4 linked regions of the Homo sapiens genome follow. The protein of the gene in region 2 interacts with the protein of the main gene of each other region in a pairwise test. Each region holds a gene or a part of one and is shown on either strand. Other genes may lie near its edges.

Region 1 (7,024 bases), on a different chromosome or scaffold from region 2:
GAAAAATCATTTAATTGAAACAGAACAGGAAAAAACAAGAGAAAATGAAACAGCAAACCAAGACTTTAACACAGCTATCATAAATATGTTCAAGGAAGGGAAAATGTAAAGATAATGAGGAGATAAACTGAAAAACATTAGAAAGATCCAAACGAAACATCTAATGATAAAAAAAAAATACAGTACCTGAAATGAAAATGTCACTGGATAGGGATAACAGTAAGCTAGACACAGCAAAAGAAAAGGCCAGTCGGCCAGGCGCAGTGGCTCACACCTGTAATCCCAGCACTTTGGGAGGCTGAGGCAGGCAGATCACGAGGTCAGGAGATCCAGACCATCCTGGCCAACATGGTGAAACCCCATCTCCACTAAAAATACAAACAATTAGCTGGACGTGGTGATGAGCACCTGTAATCCCAACTACTCAGGAGGCTGAGGGACGAGAATCACTTCAACCCAGGAGGCGGAGGTTGCAGTGAGCTGAGATCACGCCACTGCACTCCCGCCTGGCAACAGAGCGAGACTCCGTCACAAAAAAAAAAAAAAAAAAAAAAAAAGGCCAGTAAACCTGAAGCTCACGACATAGCAATAAAATATACCCAACCCAAGGCATAGAAAGGAAAAAGGCTAGAAAGTAAGTGAACACAGGCTCATCAACCTGTGAGACATTATTTTAAGGAGACTACCAAAATGAGAGGGAACAGAAAAAAAAAATACTTCGAAAAAAGCCTGAAAGTTTCATATTTGATGGAAACTGTAAACTCACAAATCAAAGCAGCACAATGAACCTAAGGCAGATGCTACACTCTGAATGTTTGTGTCCCCCACCAAATTCTTATGTTGAGATCCTGACTCCCAAGACAATGATAATAGGGGCTGAGGCCTTTGGGAGATGACTGGGAATGGGATTAGTGCCCTTATAAAACATAGCCCAAGAGCACTCCCTTCTGCCATATGAGGTTAGAGTGAGAAGACAGCCATCTCTGAGGAACTGAACCCTCATCAGACACAAAGTCTACCAGCGCCTCGATCTTAGACTTTCTAGCCTCCCAAACTGTGAGAAATAAGTTTCTGTCATTTATAATCCACCCAGTTAGTTTTGGTATAGCAGCCCAAATGAACTAAGACAGTAGAATAAACACAAAGAAATCAATACCAAGACATATCACAATTGATTCACTGAAAAATAATGATGAAAAAAAAAGCCCTAAAAGCATCCAGAATAAAAAGGCACACTACATACAGAGAAAAAATATTACAATGACTACAGAGTTCTCAATATGTACAATGCAAACCAGAAGACAATGGGATGACATTTTACAGTGCAAAAAAAAAAAAAAAAAGAAAACACTATAAACTTAAAATTCTTTATCTAGCCAAGTATCTGAAAAATGAAGATTGCTAGTAGGAACTTCTGAGTTTGTGGTAAAAGAAAAAAAGAATGAAGATGAAATAAAAGAAATTTTCAAACAAAAGCTGAGAGAATACAATGTCTGCAAATCCATATTATAATACATGTTAATGAAAGTTCTACAGACAAAAGGAAAATGGTATTAGACAGAAATTCAGACCTACATAAAATAATAAAGAATATCAGAGATGATAAATCTGTGGGTAAATATAAAAGACTTTCTTCATATGTGTAACTTATTTAAAAGATAACTGACTAAAGTATAAATAAAAAGAATGTATGACATTAAAAATTATAAACAATGTGGGTTTATAACATATGTAGAAGTAAAATATATGACAACAATAGCAAAAAATATGGTAGGAGAAAATGGAAGTATATTTTGGTGAAAGTCTAATTATAAAAGTAAAATTATATATTATTTGAGAGTATGGTAAGTTAAAATATGCATAAGACTTAAAGCAGTCATTAAAAATAAATAAGGTATACCTAATAAGCCTACAGCAGATGAAATGGGATGCTAAAAAACACTCGATCCAAAAGACAGGAAAAGGAAGGAACAAAGGAAAAAAGAACAAAGAAAAAATAGAAAAGGAATAACAACATGGTAGACTTAAACTCATCCATATCAATTATTACATTAAACATAAATAATCCAAACCAGTACTATTCAAAGAATTTTTCTATATACTGTCGAATATAGTAGCCACATAAATTTGGCTGATATAATTTTAATGAATTTTAACAAAAAATTTAAAAGCCATAAACAGCTAACAGATTAGAGAGCACAAAAAACATCTAATTGAAAAGTAAGAGACGTGAGCCAAGATTGCGGCACTGCACTCCAGCCTGGGTGACAGTGTGAGACTCCATCTCAAGAAAAAAAAAAAAAAGGAAGAGGCCAGATGCAGTGGCTCACATTTGTAATTCCAGCACTTTGGGAGTCCCAGGTGGGAGGATTGCTTAAGGTCAAGACTTTGAGACCAGGCTGGGCAACATGGCAAAACCACATCTCTACAAAATATATATAGATCATAGGCTAGAATATAAAATGTCTCAAAAACTTTTTAACAACTGAAATTATACAGAGTACAATAAAATAATAATTAAATCCAAAGTCAATAACCAAAAAAACCTAATAAAATCCACAAATATCTGGAAATTTAAAAACTCATATATATATATCCTGGACGTCGAAGTGCACACCCGTAGTCCCAGCTTTCAAGAGGCTGAGGTGGGAGAGTCACTTGAGCCCCAGGGGTTGAAGCTGCAGTGATCTACTACACTCTAGCCTGGGCAACAAAGCAAGACTCTGTCAATCAATCAATAAATCAATCAATCAATAAAATAAAAAAGAAGAAATTGATAGGCGAGATAAAAAAGCAAGACCCAATTATACACTGCTTACAAGAAATACACTTTCAATATATAAAAAAGGTACATTAAAACTAAAAGAATTTTAAAAAGACGATGAAAACACACAAAAAAAGAAAACTGAAGAGGCTTTATTAATATGAGATACAAGAGACTTCAGACAAGAGTATTACCAAAGATAAAAACGAAAACTTCGTAACAACAGTCAGTTCATCAAGGAGCTGTCTATGTACCTAATAAAGCTTCAAAATTACATAAGGCAAAAACTGACAAAACTGAAAGCAGAAATAGGTAAAATCCACAAAACAATTAAGAGATTTCAATACTATTTTCTCAGTAACTGACTGAACAGGTGAACAGAAAATCATTAACACTAAACTTAATACTATTAGTCAACTTTCCCTAATTGACATTTATAAAACACTATACCTAACAATGGCAGAATACATACTCATTTCAAATACATATGGAATTTTCACCAAAATAGATCATAGGCTAGAAAATAAAATGTCTCAAAAACTTTTTAAAAACTGAAATTATACAGAGTATAACATAATAATTAAAATCAAAGTCAATAACCCAAAAAAAAACTAGAAAAATCCACAAATATCTGCAAGTTTAAAAACTCTTATATATCCATGAGTAAGAAAAAGTAAAGTAAAAAATATTTTGAATGGGACAGCAATGAAAATATAACATCAAAGTTACGTAGAGATACAACAGTGCTATGAGAAAATTTTATAAAATAAATACACGTTAGAAAAGATTTCAAATCAGTGGCGATACATTCATCTTAGAAAGTTAGAAAAAGAAGAGCAAATTAAACACAAAGTATTCGCAAAGAATAAATATAGTTTAAATCAATGAAATAGAAAACACACAACCAGAGAAAATTCAAGGAAACTAAAAGGCAATAAAGAAAGATTAATAAAACTGATAAGCCTCAAGACAGACTGACAGAGGAAACAAACAGAAAATAGAAATTACCAAAATCAGGGATGAAAGAGGGGTATCACTATGGATTCCGTAAACATTAAAAGAACAAAGGAAATATTACAAATAACTTTATGACAATAAATTTGACAATTTCTATGGAATAAATTCCCAGAAAAACCGAAATTACTAAAACTAACTCAAGAATAAACAGAAAGTATTTAACACAACTATTAAAGGAATTAACTCTGTCGTTAAACCCATTCCACAAAGAAACTCCAGGACCAAACCGTTTCACTGGCAAATTTTAACACTTATAGATGCAAAAAAAGCACTTACCAAATTCAATACTCATTCAAGATACAAACTCTCAGAAAACTAGAAATAAAATGTCATTTCCTTAATCTGAAAAGGCATACATGAAAGTCCCACAGCAGACATCATGCTTAAATGTAAAAACCTGAATGCTTTGCACCTAAGATAAGGAAAAAGGCAATCATGTCCACTCTCACCACTTCCATTCAACACTATTTTTAAGTCCTAGCTACTGAAATAAGGCAACAACAATTAACAAATAAAACAGGCACAGAGACTGAAAAGAAAAAAGTAAAAGTCTTTTTCACACATGACATACCATTTACCTAGAAATCCTAAGAAATCTACTAAAAAAGCTACTAACACTAGTATTAGTAATTTTAACATGGTGATAAGAGGCAAGGTGAATATATCAAAAGCAGGTTTTTTTTCACTTTTTTCTTTTTTTTCTGATCCTAATGTTTCAAGTCACTTCTATAATTACATACTAGCTGTAAACACATTTAATTTAAAATTCCACTCACGATAGCACTTCCAGAAAACAAAATGGAAAAAAAATAACAAACGACATGTAAGATCTCTACACTAAAAATTTCAGAACATTGTGAGAAAAATCAAAGACATAAATGGATAGAGAGATGTACCAAGTGCATAATGGATTGAAAGAATATTTTAACATATCTATCTCCCTAAATTCCTTCCAATAGGGAAAATTCAGCCTTTTCAACAAATGATGCTAGAAAAACTGGAAATCCACGTGGGAAAAAAATAAACTGACACTACACAACATAAATAAAAATTATTAATGGATTATAAATAAGCAAAAAAGCCAAAGCTATAAAACTTCTAGGGAAAAAAAATAGGAGGCCAAGCATGGTGGCTCACACCCGTAATCCCAGCACTTTGGAAGGCTGAGGCAGGAGATCACTAGAGCCCAGGAGTTCGAGACCAGCCTCGACAATATAGTAAGACTCCATGTCTACAAAAACAACTTTTCTGTACTACATCTGTAGTCATAGCTAATTGGGCTGCTAAGGCAGCAGGATTGCTTGAGCCCAGGAGTTTGAGGCTGCAATGAGCCATGATGGTGCCACTGCACTCCAGTCTGTGCAACATAGTGAGGCTCCATCTCTAAAAACAAACAAAAAACAAAAAAATTTAATAATAACATAAACATAGGAGAAATCACAATCTTGAGGTGCGCAAAAATTAGGATACCAGAAGCACTAAGAAAAAATGATGAAAAACAAAAAAGAAAATATTTAATAAATCAGATTTCACAAAGACATGGAATGCCCTATGGGGACTTAAAATGATGCTCTACATCCTTGTTCTTCAGAGAAATATCACACGAGACATTACACAGTAGAATAGCTAAAAATTACTAAGACTGACAATACCAAGTACTAGCAAGGATGTGGAATTCCTTGGTGACTCCTAGTGCTAAACTTGCCTCAGAGCCAATGGACAGGTGGTTGGGGGGCAACTGGTGCAGCTAAGGGAGTGCTTACACCACCTCTCCCCCAACCCAAGGCTGCACAATGTGCAGCTCCAAAAGAGACCCTGTCCTTCTGCTTGAGGAGAGGAGAGAGAAGAGTAAATACAGGACTCCATCTTGCATCTTGAATACCAGCTCAGCCATAGCTGGTAACCACTAAAGAGCCCTTAGGCCCTGAATAACCAGCACCAATAATCGGGTACTACACTGTGGCCTTCACTGTGTATCTGAGACTTGCTGGATTCAGGTGAGACTCAGCACATTCCCAGCTGTGGTGGCTATGGGGAGAGCCTCCTTCTGCTTGAGAAAAGTAAAGGGGGCTCTGTCTTGCGCCTTAGGTACCAGCTCAGCCACAGGGTGGTAGAACACCAAGAGGGATCTTGGGGTCTCCAGCCCCACGCCTTGGCTCTTGGATAGCATTTCTGGATCTGCCCTGGCCCAGGGGGTGCCCACTGCCCTGAAGGGTGAGTCCCAGGCCGGGCAGCTGACTGAAGAGTTCTTGGGCCTTAAGGGAACATCAGTGGTAGCCTGCCAGTACTACCTGTGGGTCTATGGTGGTGGCTACAGGGTGAGGCCCCTCTGCCTGTGAAAAGGGAAGAGTGGGAAGGACTGCCATTCATAGGTTGAATGCCAGCTCAGCCACAGTTCAATAGAACACCAGGTACAAGTCTAAGGTTTTTGACGCCAGTACCTGGGTCCCTGATGGCACCTCTGGACCCACCCTCAGGCCTGGGGGAACTTGCCACCCTGAAGGGAAAGACGCAGGCCTGGCTGGCTTCATCACCTGCTGATTGCAGAGCCCCAGGGCCTTGAGTGAACACCAGCTGTAGCCAGGTAATTGTTACAGCAGGCCTTGGGCAAGATCCAGTGCTGTGCTTAGCAATAATTCCCAAATCATATCCCTATCCTCTTAGCCTTTCTCTGAAATTCAAGATCAACATTTCCAATATTTTCTGGACATCTCTAAGTAGATGTATCCCAGATATTTTCATATCATAACTAGTAATATATTTTTTACGTTTTCTTGTATTTTAACTTCCCATAAGTTACACATTCAAATAAAATGTTCTCAAATAGCTGCTTTGATTAATTTTAGTACATACTTACTGATGAGCTATCAGATGACTCATTGTTTTTTTCATATTTCTGTTTCTTGCTCTTTTTTTTCTTTTCTTTCTTTGCTTTTTTTGAATGCTTGTCTTTTTTCTTCTTTTTCTTCACAGAGTGTTCCTACAATCATTTTGAACAGGCAAGAAAATAATTTAATTTCATCTTAATTTAAAAGGATGTATTCTGAGAGAAAAAAAATAAACCACATTCTAAAAAACTTTCAATCTCTGATGAAATAAGACCAAGAATATGTCTAAATAAATAAAATCTTTCAGGAAATCTTAACACACCTTCTATAATATATGCACTATCAATAAATCATATAACTGAGACTTCTTACCAGAAAAATACTGGGAAAATTTTGGCTTTATTTGTAGATTAAT
Region 2 (8,012 bases):
CTCATCTTTATTGCTTCCTAACTGGTATTATCCAGCTCTATTGCCCTACTTTTACCCATCAGATTTACTCTTTTTAAAAATCAGATTCTGGCCAGGCACAGTGGCTCGCGCATATTAATCCCAGCACTTGGAAGGCTGAGGTGGGAATGTCAGTTGAGCCTGGAACTTCAAGGCCAGCCTGGACAACATGCTGAAACCCCATCTCTAACAAAAATACAAAAATGAGCTGGGTGTGGTGGCATGCACCTGTGGTCCCAGCTACTCGTGAGACTGTGGTGGGAGGATCGCTTGAGTCCAGGAAGTTGAGGCTGCAGTAAGCTGTAATCACTCCACTGCACTCCAGCCTGGGTGACAAAATGAGACCCTGCCTCCAAAAAAATAAAAATAAAAATCAGATTATTTACAAATAATAAAATTTGCTACCACTGCAGATACTCAAACGACAGTTTCAGGGGCTGTTATACAGTCTGTTCAGTTTGCTTCAAGTTACACTGGGAGGATGTGTTCACTTATTTCAAACTATGTAACTGGAGATATTCAGGCTATAGAAAGTTAGCTAATATAGAAAACATACTGCTAAAACAATGCTCTAATGGTACATCCACAATTTTCTGAAGCTAGAATGAAGATAGATAATTATGTATTATTGGCAGGGCACGGTGGCTCACGCCTGTAATCCCAGCACTTTGTGAGGCTGAGGCAGGCGGATCACGAGGTGAGGAGTTCGAGACCAGCCTGACCAACATGGTGAAACCCTGTCTCTACTAAATATACAAAAATTAGCAGGGCATCGTGGTGCGCACCTGTAATCCCAGCTACTCAGGAGGCTGAGGCAGGAGAATCGCTTGAATCCAGGAGGTGGAGGTTGCAGTGAGCCGAGATTGTGCCACTGCACTCCAGCCTGGGCAACAGAGGGAGACTCCATCAAAGAAAAAAAAAATTATTATTCTCTGCCCGCCCCCACCCCATCTTTCTTTAATACCAGATCTCAATACGGACACAGTCTCAAAAGCATGACAATTTTTACGTAAAGCATTATCATACTGTGTATGACCTTCAGAAATCTAGCAACAATCAACTCATTTGAGTTTAAAACAGCCTGTCCAAAATGCCTTTTATTTACAAGGAAATTATTCTTTGTACAATGGTAAGAAAATCTATTTTCAATGATATTGTTTCTGGTTAACAGTTCTAAAATGGACTGACGTTAGAAGAGTTCTTTCAGAACTCACTGTTGGCAATATATGCCTTTTTACTGAAATTCTACTACTCTCAAAGGTGACATTTACAGAATTTTTAACTCTTCAAAGTTGATCATAAACACGGTCTCTCTTTGATTCTATCAGACTTCTTTTTTACTTTATGGAGTGCTCAGAAACTTACGTCAGAAGTAATTTTAAGCTTTAGTAACCAAATTTATCCCAGCATGGTTTAAAATGAAAACAAAAATAAGTTGTTTTGCAGATGTCATGAAAGCAAGATCTAAGTTTTACTAAGGTTCCTACTTATTTTAAGCTCTTTATCCAACTTCAATTTATTTAATTTAAAAAAATCAAAAGAACTACAGCTTCAGAAGATTTAGCAACTTCTATCTGGATCAAGTCAACCTCTAACCAGGGCTGGCCAAAGGTTTTGTTTCTCACGCACTCTAATTTTAAATAACAATAATTTTAATAATAATTCAGAAGAAATACTTCACTTGGTTTCCCTTTACTTCTCTTCAGCCCATGACTTAACGCTGCACTGTGCCCATCAACTTCACGATTTAGCAAAGCAATTAACCAGCAACTCCTGAACAAGCTTCACAGGAAGATTTTTCTCATGACTGAGCAGCCGTTTTTATCCTAGGTGAGTTTTCTCAAAAATAATTGAGTAAGTAATCTACCAGCTTCTGGCATATCTTTGGCAAGTCACATTTTCTGCCTTGTTTTGTAGCTGAGAAGGGTATAAAAATCCCACGAAAAGAAACCAGAACTCCGAGCCTAGAAATGTAAATTATGATCCAAGCTAAACCACTCACCAGTTGGTTGAACCTAAGTATAAATAATTACCCCCATCCCAGCTCCATTTACCCATCGAAATGGCGATAACATAATCAGTTGCAACCACAAGGTGATGCGGTTAGAAAAAGATAGGAAGAAGAGTGCTCTGAAACGTGTAAAGGTGCTACGTAAATAGAAGGTAATAATCAGTGGTGACAGAACTCTCACCTCCTTTGCAAAACTTAAAGGGTCATCTCATGGCTTACAGCAAGAAAAGAGTCGAGCACAAGTAACCCGAGCCCGTTGGTGACACTTTGCCGAACTCCAGGGGGAGGATGATTAGCAGTTCCGGGCGGGAGTCAGGAGAATGCCAATCCGAGCCCAACGTGGGCTGCTCGCGCTCTCGCCCCCCATGGGAGAGAGGCACTGAGAGATCAAAATGCAACCCCGCTCCAAGCCACCCTCGCAAATGAAGGAATTTCGAAGAGGGGGTAGGAGGAGGCGGGCTGGGCGCGCCGCTGCCACCTCCGACTGGGCCACTCCTTGCGCCGCCAGCGCCCCAGCCCACGGTGCCACGTCCCGGCCTCCGTCACCGCCAGCCCTCACCCTACCCGGAACGGGGCACATCTTCCGGAGGCCACCGGAATCGTTCCCTTGCAGGCGCCCCTGGGGGGCCACACATCGGACCAGGGAAGGGAGGGGACAGTTAGAGCGGTTGGAACAGTTGCCCCCAGGCTGGCCGCCCCGGAACCCGGCCCGGCCCGCCCCGGCGGAGCCTCAGACACGGCCCCGGGCCGGGAAGGCTCCCCAAGGGCAGGCCTCGGCGCCGCCGGCCCAGCGCAGCCCCTTAGGGAGCGGCCCCGCGCTGCAGGCTCACCTCCAATGTGTCAAAAGCGCATGTTCGCCGCCGCTCAACCGACGTCTCCCCTCCGCCGGCCCGGCCAGGCCCGCCCAGCCGCTCGGCTCAGCTCCCCTACGCAGCCCCGAGCTCCACTCAGCGTACCTCCGCGCCCGGCTCCTCCCCGACACGTCAGGGACTGCCTGGGTGTCCGAGGCCATTCTGTGACGCACGGGGGCGGGGCTCGGAGCATGCGCGGCAGCGCACGGGTATGCGGGGCGGGGTGGGGCGGGGCTGGTGTCACAGGGGGCGGGCCAGAGCCCGGCGCGCTGACGCCAAGCTGACGGCGTCCTCTTGCGCAGGCGTCCTCTTGCGCAGGCGCTCCTGGACTCTGCGACCGGCTGGTTTTGGCTTGTGCAGTTCCCTGAAACTGCTATTCGGGAGAGTGGTGCCAAGACGGATGGGAACCTGCCTTCAGTTTTCTGGCCACCAAGGCCCTTCAAGTGTCCATGTGTCTGTGTTCCCGTTTATAAAATGAATCTCGGCTCATAGTTCACCTCCGAGTCCATTCCCCCTGCTCGAACACCCAATGGAACATCAGGAGCATTCTAAGCATCACTCTCACAAAGCTCTGTGTTGTTTTTACAGAACTTCCACTGTTTACATTTTGTATTTGTTCTCATCTTCCTCCAGTAGAATTCTAAGTTCTATGAGAGCTAGAACCTCTTATGCCTTGCTCATCCCAACAGATAACTTGGTTCTAGGCAAAGTGGACGCTCAAATATTTGATGAATGAATGAATGGATTCGTTGGCACAAAGGGGATTTTATATTTGCCCATTTATATATTGTATATATCTGAGCATATATTCATTTTTGTATACATGCGTGTACGTGTGTGTATGGGTGTGACTTTCTCCCCTCCAGGTCCCCCAAGAAATGGAGTCCTATGTGTATATATATACCTCTTACAATCCATCTTGGTTTTTGTTTGTTTGTTTGTTTGTTTGTTTTTGAGACGGAGTTTCGCTCTTGTTGCCCAGGCTGGAGTGCAGTGGCGCGATCTCGGCTCACTGCAACCTCCGCCTCCCAGGTTTAAGCAATTCTCCTGCCTCAGCCTCCCTAGTAGCTGGGATTACAGGCGCCTGCCACCACGCCCGACTAATTTTTGTATTTTTAGTAGAGACGGGGTTTCACCATGTTGGCCAGGCTGGTCTCGAACTCCTGACCTCGTGATCCGCCCGCCTCGGCCTCCCAAAGTGCTGGGATTACAGGCGTGAGACACAGCGCCCGGCCCCATCTTGCATTATTAATGTTTATATATTTTTAGTACGTAAACACACACGTGTATGTGTGTGTGCGCGCGTGTGTATTCCCTAGCGGACTTGGAAGCAAGCTGGAGACGATACTAGCCCAAAAAGGAGGGAAAGAGGGATAGGCAACTTACATAGGGAGTGGAAACTTAAAGGAAGAGATACATTTTAAAAACAATTTTAAGAACTTTTGCTGTATAATGTACAAGGTAATCCTTTCCTTTAGGAGATGGGGTCTACTGTGTTGCCCAGGCTGGTCAAGAACTCCTGACTTCGGCCAGGCGCTGCAGCACTTTGGGAAGCCGAGGCGGGCAAATCACCTGAGGCCAGGACTTCGAGACCAGCCTGGCCAACATGGTGAAACCCTGTCTCTACTAAAAGTACAAAAATTAGCCAGGCATGATGGTGGGCACCTGTAATCCTAGCTACTCCGGAGGCTGAGGCAGGAGAATCGCTCGAACCCGGGAGGCGGAGGTTGCAGTGAGCACCACTGCACTCTAACCTGGGCGACAGAGTGAGACTCCGTCTAAAAACAAACAAAACAAAACAAAAAAGAACTCCTGACTTCAGGCAATCTTCCCACCTCAGCCCCCCACAAAGTCCTGGGATTACAGGCACCAGCCTCCATGCGGCACGCAATGTAATCCTTTCCAATTTCAGTGCTTTTAGGATTGGATTTGTGGGTGTGAACACAAAAATAATGTGTAAGACATGCCTCAAGGTGAAAACAAAGTGAGCCTAGGAGGCCCAGTTTATATTTTTGAGGGCGATGGACATAAACAGGAACAATGCAAGATGGATTGTAAGAGGTACCCAAATCAATAAAGATCAGAGAAGGGATTAATGGGGTTTGTGGGAAAGGTAACATATTACATATGCCTATTATGAATAATATTATGAATAATATGCATATTATGAAAAAACTATGCATGGATTTCCAATTTTTTTTTTGCACAGGGCCAAGCATGGTGGCCCATACCTGTAATCCCAGCACTCTGGGAAGCTGAGGTAGACAGATCACTTGAGCCCAGAAGTTCGAGACCAGCCTGGGCAGCACAGTGAGACACCTGTCTCTAAAAAAATAAAATAAATGTTTGCACCAAAATAAATTTGTTCTAACTTGCTATAACATGTCTGAACAGGATCTAGCTTGAAGCACCAAGAAAGATAAGAAATCAGTTTGAAGAGAGTCCCTATCAGAACACATATTCTACAAAATTGAAGCAATACAAAATACTAAATTTATGGTGAAGCCTGGGTGGAAAAATGGTGGAATCATTGACGCTTTATAAAAGTGTAAAAGGACAAAGCCCCAAAAGAAGTCAGCAGTTTACAAATGGATAATTCATTTTAAGAAGAAACATGATGATGTTGAAGATGAAGCCCACAGCAGCAGACCCTCCACATCAATTTGTGAGGAAAAAAAGTAATCTTGTTCATGTGCTAATTGAAAAGGATCAATGATTAACAGCAGAAACAATAGCCAGCACCACAGATATCTCAACAGATTTGGCCTACACAATCCTTACTGAAAAATTAAAGTTGAGCTAACTTTCCACCCAATGGGTGGCAAAACCATTGTGCCCAGGTCAGCTGCTGACAAGAACAGAGCTTTCAAAATTTCACACATTTTAAACAAGTGGGATCAAGATCCTGAAGCTTTTTTTTTTTTTGAAGAATTGTAACCAAGAATGAAACTTCGCTTTACCAGTACAATCCTGAAGACAAAGCGGTGGCTACCAAGAGATGGAAGTAGTCCAGTCAAAGCAAAGTGAACCAGTCAAGAGCAAAAATCATGGCAACCATTTTGTGGGTTGTTCTAGGCATTTTGCTTTCTGGAGGGCTAAAGAATAATAACGTACTTATTACGAGAGTGTTTTGAGAAGATTAGCCAAAGCTTTAGTGGAAAAATGCCCAGGAAACCTTCATCAGAGAGACCTTTCCACCATGATAAAGTTCCTGCTCATTTCTCTCATCAAACAAGGGCAATTTTGCAAGAGTTTCAGTGGAAAATCAGTAGACATCACCTTACAGTCCCAATTTGGCTCCCTCTGAAGACTTTTTGTTTCCTAATCTTAAAAAATCTTTAGGCCAGGCGCAGTGGCTCATGCCTGTAATCCCAGCACTTTGGGAAGCCGAGGCAGGCGGATCACGAGGTCAGGAGATCGAGACCATCCTGGCTAACACGGTGAAAACCCGTCTCTACTAAAAATCCAAAAAATTAGCTGGGTGTAGTGGTGGACGCCTGTAGTCCCAGCTACTTGGGAGGCTGAGGCAGGAGAATGGCATGAACCCGGGAGGCGGAGCTTGCAGTGAGCCGAGATCGCGCCACTACACTCCAGCCTGGGCAACAGAGCGAGACTCTGTCTCAAAAAATATATATATATTGGCCTGCCATTAAATATATATATATTTATATTTATATTTATATATAATATATATATTTATATATAAATATATATATATATCTCTTTAAAGGGTAGCCATTTTTCTTCAGTTAATAATGTAAAAAAGACTGCATTAACATGCTTAAAATCCCCAGATCCTCAATTCTTTAGGGATGTACTAAATAAATGGCTGATATCATGGTTACGAAAGTATCCTGACCTTGGCTGGGCACAGTGGCTCACACCTGTAATCTCAGCACTTTGGGAGACCTGGGGCGGGTAGATCACTTGAGGCCAGGAGTCCAAGACTAGCCTGGCCAACATGGTGAAACCCCGTCTCTACTAAAAATATAGAAAAATTAGCTGAATGTGATGGCATGTGCCTGTAATCCCAGCTACTCAGGTGGGTGAAGCTTGAGAACCGCTTGAACCTGGGAGGTGGAAGTTGCAGTGAGCCAAGATCATGCCACTGGGTGACAGAGCAAGCCTGTTTCAAAAAAAAAAAAAAAGGTGTCTTGACCTTGAGGGAGCTTACGTTGAGAAATAAAGTTTATATCTTTTAATTTTATCTTTTAATTCCATTTTTCTATGAACTTTCCGAAGTTCTCTTGTATGCACTGGCAACTGTGCTAAACACTTGGTCTGCTTAATTTCATCCTCACAGTAATCCCATGAGATAGGTAGTGTTATTCCCATTTTTTAAATGAGGAAACAGACTCAGCAAGATGAAGTTTCCCAAAGTCTCTCAACTAGAAAGATGAGGCCTCAAGCCTCAAACCCACCCTGTTCGAATTGTCTAACTCTCCAGAAAACACACTATTAACAACTATTATATTGCTACTCAAGAAGGGGGAGTATTAGCAATTACTACCATGTATTGGGCTAGAGCACTGTGCTAAGTGCTTTACATGCTTTCCCTCCCTCAGTCCTCACAATGAGCCTGTGAGGCTGTGATTATTGCTTCCATTGTACATATTGTAAACTGAGACCCAGAGGAGCTAGGGCTTAAACTCAAGTAGGTCTTACTTCAAGGCCAGTGGCCTGGGACAATGGACTGGTACAGCTCGTTCAGGCTCTGGGGCTCTGCTTCCCTGGGTGAAGCTGTGCTCTGGCTGATGAGATCACAGACAGGGAGGGGATGAATGAAGGCTTTCCTGTGGACCTGGTGCCAAGACAAAACAGTCCTATCCCAAGAGGAAAAAAATTAATAAGGGCTGCGGCTCTCTCCCTGCCTCCTGGCTGAGGTGCTGGGAAACGCACTGAGTCATCTAATGGCAGGCCAGGCCCCTCGGAAAATGTTGGCATCATCTTCCAAGCTGCCACCCCTCCCACGCGGCCTGGACCCAAAACTGGTGTTTGTCAGGACTGGACTATTGGCCTTATCTTAATGAACGGGCTTTGCCTGGCAGGATTCTAAGAGGTGCCGAAGGGCCCAAACTGATGTAATTCCTTCCCCCTTGTGGTTGAGCTTTCTCCCTGGGAGATGGGCCCAG
Region 3 (7,024 bases), on a different chromosome or scaffold from region 2:
CTTGTCTTGGAAGTGTATAGATGCCCACCCACTCACAACCCCAAATCAAGGAGCACCCTATAGAAACTGCCCTGGGCCCATCCACTTCTTCTCCACCAGTCAGGATTCTTGCCTTAATCTCCAGTCTCTTTATCTTACCTCCTCCCCTCCCCCAGCTCTTGGGTAACTACTGGGAGCACAAGAAAGAGAAATGGACCCAAATTCCCTTGGATGACCCCCTGCCAGGGGAGGCAAGAGGATTAGGCTGGTGGATCAGCGGGTGCTAGCCCCTGATAGACAAAGCCTAGTGACAGGCTGGAGGGGAGGAGGCCAGCCCAGGCCCTGGGGCCTGAGAGGAGTAGGCGGAGTTCAAGGACTGTTTGAGCATAAATATGCCCCCGCCCCCCCATCCCCTACTCTACCCATGTCCTCTACACCTGCCAGGATTCCCTCATCCCATCCTCCAGGACCAGACACTTGTGCCCAGATAGTGCAGCAGGTGACCCAAGCAGCTGGGAGGCAGGGTCAGAGTGCAGATGGAAGGATACAGGGCCCCCTCTCACCCACCTTGTCCTTCAAGGTCAGCACATTCTGATGCTGTTAGCAAGTGGCTTTAGGAAGCTCTGAGGTCACCACTGTGGGGGCTCCCAACCACCTGGCGGGACTGGCTGGGACTCCCCACTCACCTTTTCCGGGCACCTGAGTAGGAGGGAAGAGACTTAACCCTGTTTAGGCGTGCTTCTGAAACTCAGCTAGAGGCTCTCTATCCAGGCCCCAGTAGCAAAGCAGGCTTTCACCCCAGAAAGCCAAGCAGATCTGGGCAGAGAGAAGCCATGAAGGTTACTGGGATGTGGGGCATCACCCATCCCCTGCCCCCAGGGCCAGGAGCGCCTGGAATTCCTGGGGAGCAAGTCCCTCCCCTGGCTGGGCAGGTTAGGGAGCCCTTCATGTGAGCAACAGGAAATGACAGTGGCTGAAGCAAAGGGGTTGGCTGCCCCACGGGGACAGGGTTCATTTTAACCCCTGACTCACCCAGCATGGGTACCTTGAGGAGTGGGCCAAGCTGCAGCCAGGGTAGGAGGCTAGGGACTTGCTCATAACCAGGCCAGGGACCCAAGGCCCCGAGCTGGGGTAGATGCTGGTGCCAGGGGACATGCAGGGGCTTGGCACAGTGGGTGAAATGGAGGCTTCCTGGACCATCTCTCGGCCTATCAGTATTGTTCTGGGGCTCGAGTTGCACCTGGCTTCACTTTCATTCACCTGCAGTGGAAAATCCAGAGGGCTGCTCCTGCCAGAGTCTGTACACCGCATGCTGTTACTGGATGACGGACACCTGGATCCTGTGGTGGTCCTTCCCTCAAACCCCACCCACAGGTCCCAGTCCTGACCCGTCCCATGGAGAGCCAGGGAAGAGTGAAGCAGGGGTCTGGGCTTCAGGCCAGATATAGCAGACAGAGCACGAGTCCAGCCCAGCTCTGCCACTGCTCCCAGTGTGACTTTGGGAAATCCACATCACTCCCAGCATCGCCAACTTCCTCATCTGCAAATGGACGTGATAACAGCACCTACCGCTTAAAGGAGCAGGGAGGATTCAGTGAGTTAATGCACTGTGTCCCAAGCCTTAGTGCAGTTTTAAGCTTTAATAACTTCAGAAATATGAATGCTAAAAACTTCATTTGAAAGTTTCCATATTTAAATTTCTTGTATATTTATTTTTTAATTGTGAAAATGTTTTTAAATTTTAATTTAAATAATTTAATCTGTCCAAAGAGGTGTGTAAGTTGGAGACATTTATGTCTGAAAGAATCCCAGCTTAAACCTGCACTAAGACTTTTTGGGGTGCTCTGTGTATGAAGCACATCTAGAAGAATGCGTCACATGGCAAGGGCCGATGAGAGCTGATGTGAGACTGCAGAGAAGATGGACTCAGAAGCTGCATGTGAAGTACTCAACATGCCTGGGGCCTGGTTCAGAGGTGATCAGCACCAGCCAGCTGGGGTGACAGCTGCTTGGCTCAGATGCCCTGACAGGAAGCCCAGTGCCTCTGTGCAGAGGAACTCTGCTGCACCTCCCAGGAGAGGGAAACTGAGCAAAGCAACAGGAATCTCTGACAGAGAAGGAAGGGTCAGGACACCTCAGTGAAGATGGCCAGGAGGAGGAGCTGGGCAGGGGACTGCCCCCATTGTCCAAGGTGGCGGACACCTGGAGAGGCGCTGCCTGGAGCTGCATGCCTGTACTTGCCAGCTCTGGGTAAACAGTGAAAGGAGCTGGGCAGCAGGGGCCCCCCGCACTGGGCAGGGAGGGGTATGGGGGATCCCAGCCAATTGGCTTGCCTCCCACTGCCCCATGAAAGGGCCATTCAGTTCAGGCTGTTCCTGTGGCAACAGGGAGACTCGCAGCCACGTGAGTGCCCGTCCTGTCCCTGTCTTGCGCAGCGAGACTCCGGCCAGGGCCCCAGCCCGCTCTCCTGCCCATAGTGCATTCTGTGGCCTCCAGGGACAGCTGTGCAGGTAATGCCAAGGGGCACCAACCCAGGCTGTGCTTTCACCTGGAAGGTGCTAGGACCTTTGAGAGTGAAACTGGGGGTTGCGGGAGGGGAGAGACATGTGGAAGGCCCCGGCCCCAGTAGGAACCCTCTCCGCAGGCATGGGAACTGTAGCTAGAAGTCAGAGCCGAGAGGCAGCTTCCATGGAGTATTAGTGATGGCATGACTCCCAGGGCTGCTAGGAGGAGGCGGAGGGGTCTGGCAATCACCTGCCAGATGGGAGGGAGAGTGGGGATTTGGGAGCCCTCCTGGGAATCTGTGGGCCAGAGATGTGGCCCCACCTCCGGCTCCAAAGCCTTTCAGAGCTGTCTGTCCCTGTCCTCTGGACCTCGTTTGGCCCCAGCACTTCTGCGTCATCAGCAGGGTCAAGGGATGTCACGGGCTTGGGGCGCTGCCCGAAGAATACCAATTCCCTGAGAGCCTTACTGTGGGGGAGGGAGAGGGAGAGCTGTGGGGAGGAGCCATGAGCTCATACCCTTGTTGGGGGGATTGTATCTGATTGGCTGCCTGGTGTCCCAGAGCCCAGCTCCTGAGACCTGGAGTCTCTTTGACTTTGCATTATTGATGGAGTTCTCCAAAGCAAAATAGGGCAGGACTGGGCCCCCACCCCGACCCTGTGCCTCTGTCTGTCTCTCCCGCTATGGTTTCCCTCTAACGCTGTGTGACATCATCCCCCAGTTACCTTTTCCTAGAAAGGGGTGAAAGTTGTGCTGGGCACAGTGGGCAAAGGAGTGTACATGAAGGGCCAGGGGCCCCCTGGGCCAGGTGGCAAAAGGCTAGACAGTAAGATGGACCAGGCCTTTCTGATGTCAGCCTGGACTGAAAACTGCTGGAGTTCTCAGGCAGGGTCAAGGAATGCTGTTCCGGGCCTATATGGAAGCCACCTGCTCATCTCTCACCCCTGTACCTACCCCAAAGCCTTGTGTGGACTGGGATTCTAGAGCTTTCTGCCAAGCCCTCGCATTTGGGGTTTGGCACCAGCTCCTCTCTGCCCTAATGGGCTGGGTTGCCAAGCCAGTGTCTGCTGAGTGGCCAGATGTCTGCCCACTGCCTGTTTCTCTCGCTGGGGGCTGCAGGGGGAGGCCTGGCATCCCAAGCTGAGGCCAGAGGCTGGCCAGGCTGGGAGACAGCCAGCCCTGATATTATCACAGACCTTCAGAGGGCGGAGCCATGCTGCCTCGCAGTAGCTGGGGGAGGAGATGGTAGCCACTGTCATTGTGGAGCCCTTCACGTGTTGTTATCTCATTTATTCCTCACAACAGCCCTGTGAGGTAGGAATTATGAGGATGATGGTTTTACTCATTTACAGATGAGGAAGTTGGGGCTCAGAGAGGTTACGTGACTAGTGCAAAATCACCCAGCTAGTCCATCACAGGGCAAGTCCCACAACTCTGAGAGTCCTGGATGGCTCTGCTCCATCCCCCTAGAAAGCCCCCCAAGAGCCCCTGATGCCCTCGGGGAAAGGCGTCTGACCCTACTTGCTCCTCTGCCACTCCAGCTCCATTGGATACAGGCTGCACGTTTACGGTGATGGAAGGCCTCTGGGGGTCCCCAACTGACCCTAAATCTGATGCGGGGGAGGTAACTCCAGGTTAAGTAGAAAGAACACTGGCCAGGATTTTAAAGACCTGGATTCCAGTCCTGGCTCTGCTGGTGTGTGGCCGGGGGCAAATAAGCATCACTTTTCCCATCTGTATAACAGATAGATTAAAATTCATGATCCTCTGGGGCTCTCAAAGCTCCACATTCAGCAGTGTCTGTGTTCCTTCACTAGACCCTCCCCAGCTGCAGGACTGGAGCAGGGAAGGACTGGGAATGCCACCTGCAGTGCAAGATTTGGGACTGTAGGGGGCCCCCTTTGCACAAGCATCGCCAGGACCAATTTGAGATCTGTGTTTGTAGAGGAAGCCTGTGTTGGTAGAGGAACTCTTAGGAGGCCACAGGGCCCTAACTCCACTTAGAACAGAAGCTTAGCTCAGTGAAGTGAGTGTCCCTCACTGTGGGACCATGCAGCAGGTGCTGGTGTCTGGGGAAAGGGTCTGGAGACCACGTTCTGGCCCCTCATTGTTGCATGCTCACTCACGGCCTCCCCTGCCCACCCACACCCCATTACTTCCTCCCCTGAGCCTCCTTGGCCTCACAGGGGATCTGACCAAATGATCTTCAGGTCATTCCAGCACAGACAGTCTAGGATTCCAAAAAGACACCTGCTCATCACATAAGTCAGAAGGGACAGATGTGGTCTTAACTCCTGAAATATCCAGCATTCTCAACCCAGGGGTCAGTGGCATTCCCCCAGCTCAAGAGTTTCTGCAGATGCTGAGGCAATGGGATTTGACCTGGAAGACTGCACGGCTTGGTGGGCTGTGGAGGTCAGATAGCCCCTGCTTGCGTGTTTGAGTCTTTGAATGGCCAGGATGCGCTGACTTCCTGTGTGGCATATAAAAGCCACCTCATCCCTCGCACTCTCACCGAGGTGTGAACACACAGGTGCAAGCAAGCTCCTGTGCACACCTGCGTGCATGTGTGCTTCTCAGCAGCCAGCCTGCCTCTTGTGGAAATGGACTGGGAGCTCTGAGGTTCTGGCCCAGCTGAGGATGGGGAGCAGGTCTGTGGGAGCCCGACACCTGGCAGGGCCCTCTGACAACTACACTCCTTGTCTTTCAGCCCATGAGGCTCCCAGTCCCCACTGAGTGCCACCCTGAAGGATGTCCCAGCTCTCCTCCACCCTGAAGCGCTACACAGAATCGGCCCGCTACACAGATGCCCACTATGCCAAGTCGGGCTATGGTGCCTACACCCCGTCCTCCTATGGGGCCAATCTGGCTGCCTCCTTACTGGAGAAGGAGAAACTTGGTTTCAAGCCGGTCCCCACCAGCAGCTTCCTCACCCGTCCCCGTACCTATGGCCCCTCCTCCCTCCTGGACTATGACCGGGGCCGCCCCCTGCTGAGACCCGACATCACTGGGGGTGGTAAGCGGGCAGAGAGCCAGACCCGGGGTACTGAGCGGCCTTTAGGCAGTGGCCTCAGCGGGGGCAGCGGATTCCCTTATGGAGTGACCAACAACTGCCTCAGCTACCTGCCCATCAATGCCTATGACCAGGGGGTGACCCTAACCCAGAAGCTGGACAGCCAATCAGACCTGGCCCGGGATTTCTCCAGCCTCCGGACCTCAGATAGCTACCGGATAGACCCCAGGAACCTGGGCCGCAGCCCCATGCTGGCCCGGACGCGCAAGGAGCTCTGCACCCTGCAGGGGCTCTACCAGACAGCCAGCTGCCCTGAATACCTGGTCGACTACCTGGAGAACTATGGTCGCAAGGGCAGTGCATCTCAGGTGCCCTCCCAGGCCCCTCCCTCACGAGTCCCTGAAATCATCAGCCCAACCTACCGACCCATTGGCCGCTACACGCTGTGGGAGACGGGAAAGGGTCAGGCCCCTGGGCCCAGCCGCTCCAGCTCCCCGGGAAGAGACGGCATGGTGAGTTTACCCTTGGGGACCGGGGATAGGCTGGGGAGGCAGCCACTGATGGAGAACAGCCAGGCTGAGGGCTCGACTCCCAACCTGACTGATGACTGACAGGCTGCTCCTGGTGGAGACAAACAAGAGAAGTCATCCTGGCACATCTGGTGCCCCTGGGGCTCCGTGCCGAGGGGAGGGGCCTTCCCACTCTGCCTAGAAAGCCCACTCAGGGCCCGCGCACTCGAGGATAGTCCAGTAGTGTTCTCAGGAATGCTCTGCTGCGCCCAATGAACCACTCTTCTCACCTTCTCCTTTTCTATGTGACATGCCAGTGTCTCCTGCAGGCCTTGCCCCAACCTGGGCTGGATGCGGGGGGGCCCAGACCACCAGTGCACCCTGTGGCAGGAGGGCCTCCTTGCTGTGGTTGCATCTCCCCTCTTGTGCAGGCTTTATTCCCTAGCCCCAAGGCCTGGCTTTACATTTGGACATAAGACATCAGGGGAAGAGGGACTCTCCTCTGAGTGACACTGGCATACTCAGGACCAGGGTATCAGACAGCAATGCTTATCATCTGGCTTTGGAGAAAGTAGGGGAGAAATTTTTATCTAGGGCTTGAGACAATCCAATACCTCTATTCCAGCCCTGCCTCAGCTGGAATGAGGGAAGAGGCTCTGCTGGAGACTGACCAAGGGCTGGCATGGGCTCGCTCGCCAACTAATGCCCGCACACGCCTCTCTTGGGGCACTGACGACATCTGCCTTTTCTGTAGTTATTAGTGTGCCCATTAGGTGGCAAGCTCTCAGAGGAGGAAAAAGAAATCCTATCTCTAGATCCCCTGCCACGTGCCTCCCACAATGGGGGCTGACCTGCTGATTGCAGGGATGAATGGATGGATGGATGTGTGGGTGGTGGGTGGGTGGATACACGGGTAGATGGCGGGTGGACAGATGGACAGGCAAGCATATGGGCAGAAGGGCTGGATGCTGTGTCTCCTCCATTACCTTATGTACCCCTCCCTACTCCTAGGACAAATACA
Region 4 (7,024 bases), on a different chromosome or scaffold from region 2:
CATCGTACAAGACATTTACAGTTACCAAGAGGGCTTATGGATCATAGAGATTTCCAGATAGGCTTCCGAGTCTTGGTATCTTAGAATGTAAATTAATATTTTTAATTATTTTTTCTCTCATTTTATTGTGATTTTTTTCCCTGTAATTCTAGGTTGACAATCACTCCAATTTTTTTAGGCAAATAGAAAGACAAACTACTACCTGAAGATTCATAATGCTAAGAAACTCATACAGAGTTAGCCATTCAGAGGGAATGGAGTTTTGTTACTTACTTTGGCCAGTTATAGAGATGTTATTCCACTTTTTATCAGGTAGCTGAAAATTTTAAAGAATTACAACTTTTTATTCATTGACCACAATTTTTGTTTAAAAATGTTTTCTTTTCATCCTAAAAGTACATTGTAGGATCATGCAAATCAATGACTGTGTATAACAGAACTGAAAAATTTTATTCAAGGAAAAAACTAATATTCTGTATGTCAGATTGGAACTTTGTTAATTGAGCTATAGTGAAATGGAACCTGGAAATTTTATATTTATATAAATCTCGAAGTCTGTTAGAGATACCATTATGGGGGCAGATTGCATTCAGAGAGGCATACATATATATCAGACCTATTTTCATGAATTTCTATAAGTGAACTAATATTCATAATTATTTGTAAACCTAATTAAGATGAAAGTCACTTATAGTTTTCATATATATGAGAAAGTGATAATTCTGAATTTATTAGAGACACTGTGTTTTAGTTGTCTATCTCATGCTTCCATATAAAGGGCAGACAACTAGTAATCAAATTCTCTTTCCCTAGAAATCTATAATGGAAACGGAGTTAATAATTGGTATATAGAATTACATTTCATTAAACTTACACATAATCTTAAATACTAAAATGTGTATTAGAACAAAATGAGAAGCTGTGTTCTGTAGAAATTTCCTGTCAAGATGTCTAGACTTGTAATTATGAATTCTATTTCTATGGTTGGAAATAAACAGGTATAATCAAGAAATTATCGCACCTCAAGGTGAAAAGGTATACAAGTGATTTAGAGCTTAGTCAAAATTTCAGTTGAATTTCTTCCTATATTAAAAAAATAATAATTCCCTCTTCTTTCCCACCTTCCTTTTATCCTAAATCTACATAACCCAATGACAGGGACTAGTAGACAAACAGATCTGTCACCTTTGCACCCTCTATAAACCTTTATCACTGGAGCATGTGCATAAAAACGTCCTTGGCTCCTGCTCTGAAACTCAAAGGACAGCTGCCTTTCTGCCAATGCCAGGATGTTACCAACACTTCTTAGCCTGAGTCCCTTTCCTCTACCCCGAAGGCTCCTTGACTCCTACAGAAGTCTGCCTCTTTCCCTAGGTGTTTAAGTTACTATTATTGCTCTGTTAGGTGGATAATGCCATGTGCTAGTTTCTCTTATCCCTCATCCCTCCCCTGTTCTGTGAGTGAGATGTTCTCACCTTCCAGGCCCTGATCCCACCAATCCAAAGCTACCTGGATTTCTCCAGAAGACTGCATGTCTGAAAATAATCCTGGCAACATTCTTTGAGTTGTTAAGTGAAGCACCTGGCTTTCAACAACTTTCTTAAAAAGTAGCCTGTTTTAAAGAAACAGTGTGTGAGAAGTGTAGATGATTACATAGATAAATTCTAGAAATGAGGCGGAAGAAAATGCCTCAGTTTATTTGGAAAACAGGTTATTTATAATTTTCCAACTACAAAAGGAAAAACAAGATTTTATGAATTTTGAAACAATTCGTAAAGACCCCCAATAGAATTGATCTAACAAAAAGACTGTCATGTTATTATATTTAGTACGGCACTTGAACTAGAGTAGATGCTCAATAAATATTTGAGTTGAATTGAGTTATGCATTTGTATAAAAAGAATTCTGAGTAGAGATTTATTTGATATACGCTTTCTCCTATATGAAATTTGTAGGACAGTTTTCTGTGCTCTTCAGGACACTGAAAACAGTAAAACCGTGTGAGACAGTGACTATAAATAAAATAGTGTCTGTTTCTGCTGCAATTTAGTGTAGTTTACTTTTAGGTTATTGTAAAGAATTGGATGATTTCCAAAGCCTTTTTGAGAGACATGGCATCATTAAGAAGACTAACATAAAATCCTAATATTTACAGTGTACCCACCTTCTAACAAATCTAAAAAAAAATGGAAATACTCAAATGTCAAAATGAGTTGCAGTGTGGCCTGTGGTTCTTCCAAAAAACAATAGGGCAAGCCCAGATGACCTGTTACATTTATTGAGCTGTACCTTGGAAAAGATTCATATAATTTTATCTCCTTTTAGATTGCCTTACATAATTTCTGACAACAAAAGTAAATGCCATGGAATTAAAAACTATTTGACTGTTACACTGCATCACAAAGATGCCTTCGTCCTCCATGTATTGCATATTGTTTTCCTTCCTAAATGGTAGTGACCTGCTTAGGACTCAGCAAATACCTTCAAATGGTTCGCAGGATCTTATCAACAGGTGTGAGGATAATGTGCCGTAAAGCTAGCAGAGGTTAACACTGCTGGAGAAAAGGAAGCTTGGAAAGAAAGTACATGGCATTCTAGGTCCTAGAGCATGCAAGCATGTATCTAGGAAGTTGAAATCCACTGTCACATAATTGTTGGAGATATTCATGAGTGAAATTGTGTCACCTGAAACATAATGATGATAGGAAGTGTCAGAGTTCACCTGTAAGTTGTCAGCCTGCAAGTCATATTTTATTTCTCTAGATCTCATTAGAAGTATGTACTTCACTATACTTTAGTACAGCAAACAACCATTTATCTGGAATATGGTTAATAGTCATTAGAAACAGTAATTCTCAGTAATTCTCTGAACTTTAGTATAGCAAACAACCATTTATCTGGAATCTAGTTAATGGCCATTCGAAAACAAACACAGTTAGAACCAAAATGATTCTTAATATGGTGGCAATCCAGAAAGCACTGGCCACCTTGCATGGTCTTTGGCTTATCATAGTGGACATTGATTACCACTTACAGTAGCGAAGCTCTGGAAGGGGCAGAAAACTGATTGGTCAGACATTGATATGATACTCTAACTTATCCTGGAATTTGCCCAAAAAACTTGTCAGTTTGCTCCTATTGTGTGGCTTTTTCATTCAAAAGCAAACATTGTATGAATGGTTGCTATTTGTGGTTCAGTTTGAATTATGATTATGCTTGCATTTACTAAAATAATATGGCCAATGTTCAGAATAGAAGGTTATGGTGATGATAACTTACAATTTAAAACATAGCCATAGACTACACAGATGGGCATTAATGCCAATCACAAAGCTTTACTCATCTCTGGAATTGTACTAAAAATAATAAAATAAAATAAAATAAAATAAAATAAAATGAACAGGAATAGATTAAAACAGTCCAGGGCAATTATCCAGATAATTATGGAGAAATATTTTTACTCTGCAACAAAAAAAGCAAAAAAATAAGAAGTTTAATTTTTCAGCTTAATTTTTCAAGAATTCTTTTCTCAGTTTATTAACATATTAAATAATTCCCAGCTTTTTGCTTCACATTGTCATACCTACTGGCAGAGTCTGGAGTCTAGGAGTCCTTTTCGTAAAAATTCTGGAGGCATGGCTTTGCCATCTTTTGGGTGGATACTGGTTAGGGCAAAACCACAAATGGCAGATATGTATTCCATGGGACTTCTCTCCCAGCAGAGCTTCCATCTTGCTTCCTTTCAGGGAAACTCTTTTAACAAATCCTCTGCTAACTGCAACTTATTCCAAACTATAATCTTGGTACATATCATGGCAAATAGGGGAGGAAAAAAAGTTGTCCTGAGAAATGTTGGAGGAATATGGTGATGAATCTCTGCAAAAATAGGACAATCTCCAAAAACTGGGGCAATTATGCAATAATTAGTAAAATAATCCCGAAATAACAGCAAAAACTACAAGTGCCAACCTTCAGTAGGACGTTGACTAAGGCTGGCCTGAGCCAAGCTATTTTCATGTTTCAAAATCAACTTTAAAGAAGGTCGAGAAGCAAAGGACTTGAGGTTACTACGGTGTCCTGAAAGGATGCCTCAAAAGAAATGTTTAAAGATATTTTAAAACATGAGCCAATAGTTAGTATATTAAGAAGTTATCCTTAGTAAATTAATACATCTCCTCCTTTCTGTGGGAAATGTTAAATTCTCTTACTTTACTGAGGGCAGGTACATCTATTTCACTATTATAGTAAGTGGCTATTACACTATTATCGTAACATGAAGGAAAGGATACTCCTGTATGTGGGATCGTTATGATACCATATGACAAACTGAGTGATTAATATTTTGGTCAAATTAATTGAAAAAAATACACTTTGAGAATTTGTTATGTACATAGCATTTTAGTAGGTACTGGGGGCAAATAAAGACACATACTTTGTACTTTTAAGCAATATGTAACCTCTCTGGGAAGAAAAAACATGTAAAGCTGAGTAACTATCAGAGGTCATATGCAGCTAATGAGGACACTGTTTACCAGTGCTAGAAGCTGGGGACAGGTGGGCAGCTGTGGGCTACTCAGTGTTGTGTAGGAAAGACATTGCCTGCTTGGTTAACTGAATTCAACATTTATTGTTCCATTTTATTCATTATTCATTTCAAAATAATTCTACTGTGTGTATTGTAGCAATTAAGTACTTCACTCATGATCATACAACTGGTAAGTGAATTAGTCGCTTTTTGTGTGTGTGTGTGTAGACAGTTACCAACCTAAATCTAGGGAAAGGCAAATGTATAAAAAAAATCAAATTCTGATAATTAAAGATAATTCCATCTATGGTTTAGAAAATCTCGATTAAATATAACAAAACAGGCAATTAGGAACAGAACGTTAAGATGGAAGAATAAACTTTCTGAAGTCAAAGACTTTAGTTAACTAGATGTTTGCTTAGAGTACTTGGCCCTGATAAAAATAATTGCTTTCTGATGTGTTTGTATTCTCCCAGCACAATTCTGTTTTATTTTGTTTTATTTTTTGGTGGCAATAGATGCAAAAGTTTTTTCTTTACCCGTCTTCTTCAGAGAAAGACATTTTGCCCGCAGATGTTTCATTTCCAACGATTCTCTTGTTCTCACTCACCTACATTCCCACAGCAGTAAAATTAAAGCAAGGCTCAGACATCTAATCTTCTGTGCTCAGTAATACAAGCCAGACAGATGAAATTTCAAGAGTTCATATTTATTCCAGGGATTGTAGATTTAGCCATTTCTTATTCTGAGTCCTAAGGATGTCTTATTGCTTTTCCTCCACCAAAGCTCCCTATTGTGGTGAGGCTGGAGAGTGCCAGGATATTGACTTCCTGATCTCCTATTTTCTGACATATATATTATGCTACCATGAAAAAGCAGACCAGGCCAGGCACGGTGGCTCACGCCTGTAATGCCAGCACTTTGGGAGGCCAAGGCGTGTAGATCACCTGAGGTCAGGAGTTGGATACCAGCCTGGCCAACATGGTGAAACCCCGTCTCTACTAAAATTACAAAAATTAGCCAGGCCTGGTGGCGGGCGCCTGTAATCCCAGCTACTTGGGAGGCCGAGGCAAGAGAATCACTTGAACCCAGGAGGTGGAGGTTTCAGTCAGCTGAGATCGTGCCATTGCACTCCAGCCTGGGCGACAAGAGCAAAACTCCATCTCCAAAACAAAAACAAAAACAAAAACAAAAACAAAAAACAAAAAAAAAAAAAACCAATTATCTATTCATCAAACTCTGTTCTGAGTAGGAGGCACCATGGAGAGGGAAAGAGCACTGGTCTATGTGGTATCAGAAAGATTTGGCTTTGAATCTAGGTTCCCCTTTTTTCCTAAGGTGATTTAAAGCAAACTGTTTAATTTTCTCTGAGACCCTCTGTCCTCATCTGTAAAATAATAAGAACAAATCCAGCTCAGAGATTTTGCAATTGTTTTGAGATTAAGATAATGCATTTGAAATTGCTTTGGAAATCTTAAACTATTACCCAGATAGACATATTATTATTATTACCACTCAGTAATATAAAACACCTAGAAGGCTTCATCAGCTTTACCACTAATAATACCCTGAGGCATTAATAAAGGTAATTTTTCTCCTTTTTTCCCCTCCCCCTAGCACCTTCTACTATGAAGTGCTTCAGACATTAGAAAATGTGGCTTAATGAAAACTGAGGGGTGGGGGAAGCCTAAATAAAGAATTTAATAATGGCTGATTGATTTAGTGACAAAGAGAAATTGCTGGTGTTATGCTGCTCAGTGCGATGCCAAGATGCTAGTTTTTTCTTGTCATGCTGAAAAGGTTGAAAAGTAGAGGGATATGACCTATTTGTCATTAAGTTGATCTTTGCACTGACTGAAAGCTATGGTAGAGGAGGAGATGCTGAGAACCCCAGCAAAGAAGCATGGGTCAGGTAGTCACCAAAAAAATTGCATGGCCAGAGGCAGGAGAAGAAGCTTCTCTGATCTAAAAAATTGAGGGGGCTCCTGATTGCAGGCAGGGTGCCACCCCTCCACAGTGTGGCAGGACAAGGCTCTTGTCCTCTTTCTGGTCCAGGAGCATGTTTTGTATTGGGCTGACAGGGAAGCCTTAAGTGAATGTTATATTTAAATGATGCCATTATGGCACTTTGATGACTGTAAATGTAGATATAGGTAAAATAAAGCAGCATGGTCTATGCCCTTGGGAAATAGTTTGATTTTAACATATATTATTGTGCACCCACAGTGTGCAGCGAACAGTATTTGGTGCTGAAGATAGAAAGTGGTATCAAACAGTGAAAGAGTTTTTAAGCTAAGCTTATATGTCTGGGGCCATAGAACAAACACTGAAGCACTATAATTTCAGAATATGAGAGAGAGGGCGCTGAGGTCTCCAGCAGGTCAAGACAATCTTGCAGAGCAGGGAAAGCTGGTGGCGGGCCCAGAGGAGGGCAGAACTTAGGTGAGGTGAAAAGGAAGGGGAATGTTCCCCTAGATTTAAGTGAACATAAAGCATCGG

The links.
Region 1: the proteins of NDEL1 (region 2) and CWF19L2 interact in binary tests that used the Homo sapiens proteins (3 or more experiments, as listed by UniProt).
Region 3: the proteins of NDEL1 (region 2) and USP2 interact in binary tests that used the Homo sapiens proteins (3 or more experiments, as listed by UniProt).
Region 4: the proteins of NDEL1 (region 2) and CLVS2 interact in binary tests that used the Homo sapiens proteins (3 or more experiments, as listed by UniProt).

The regions. Positions count from the first base shown.
Region 1 is NC_000011.10:107,447,812-107,454,835, forward strand, and holds part of CWF19L2 (CWF19-like protein 2), read right to left. Parts: intron 6,762-7,024; coding exon 6,639-6,761; intron 1-6,638.
Region 2 is NC_000017.11:8,430,893-8,438,904, reverse strand, and holds the start of NDEL1 (nuclear distribution protein nudE-like 1), read right to left. Parts: upstream 3,022-8,012; 5' UTR 2,860-3,021; intron 1-2,859. UniProt on the Homo sapiens protein: Required for organization of the cellular microtubule array and microtubule anchoring at the centrosome. May regulate microtubule organization at least in part by targeting the microtubule severing protein KATNA1 to the centrosome.
Region 3 is NC_000011.10:119,371,689-119,378,712, reverse strand, and holds part of USP2 (ubiquitin carboxyl-terminal hydrolase 2), read left to right. Parts: exon of another isoform or gene 1-2,489; intron 2,490-5,191; 5' UTR 5,192-5,232; coding exon 5,233-6,006; intron 6,007-7,024. UniProt on the Homo sapiens protein: Hydrolase that deubiquitinates polyubiquitinated target proteins such as MDM2, MDM4 and CCND1. Isoform 1 and isoform 4 possess both ubiquitin-specific peptidase and isopeptidase activities.
Region 4 is NC_000006.12:122,999,223-123,006,246, forward strand, and holds part of CLVS2 (clavesin-2), read left to right. Parts: intron 1-7,024. UniProt on the Homo sapiens protein: Required for normal morphology of late endosomes and/or lysosomes in neurons. Binds phosphatidylinositol 3,5-bisphosphate (PtdIns(3,5)P2).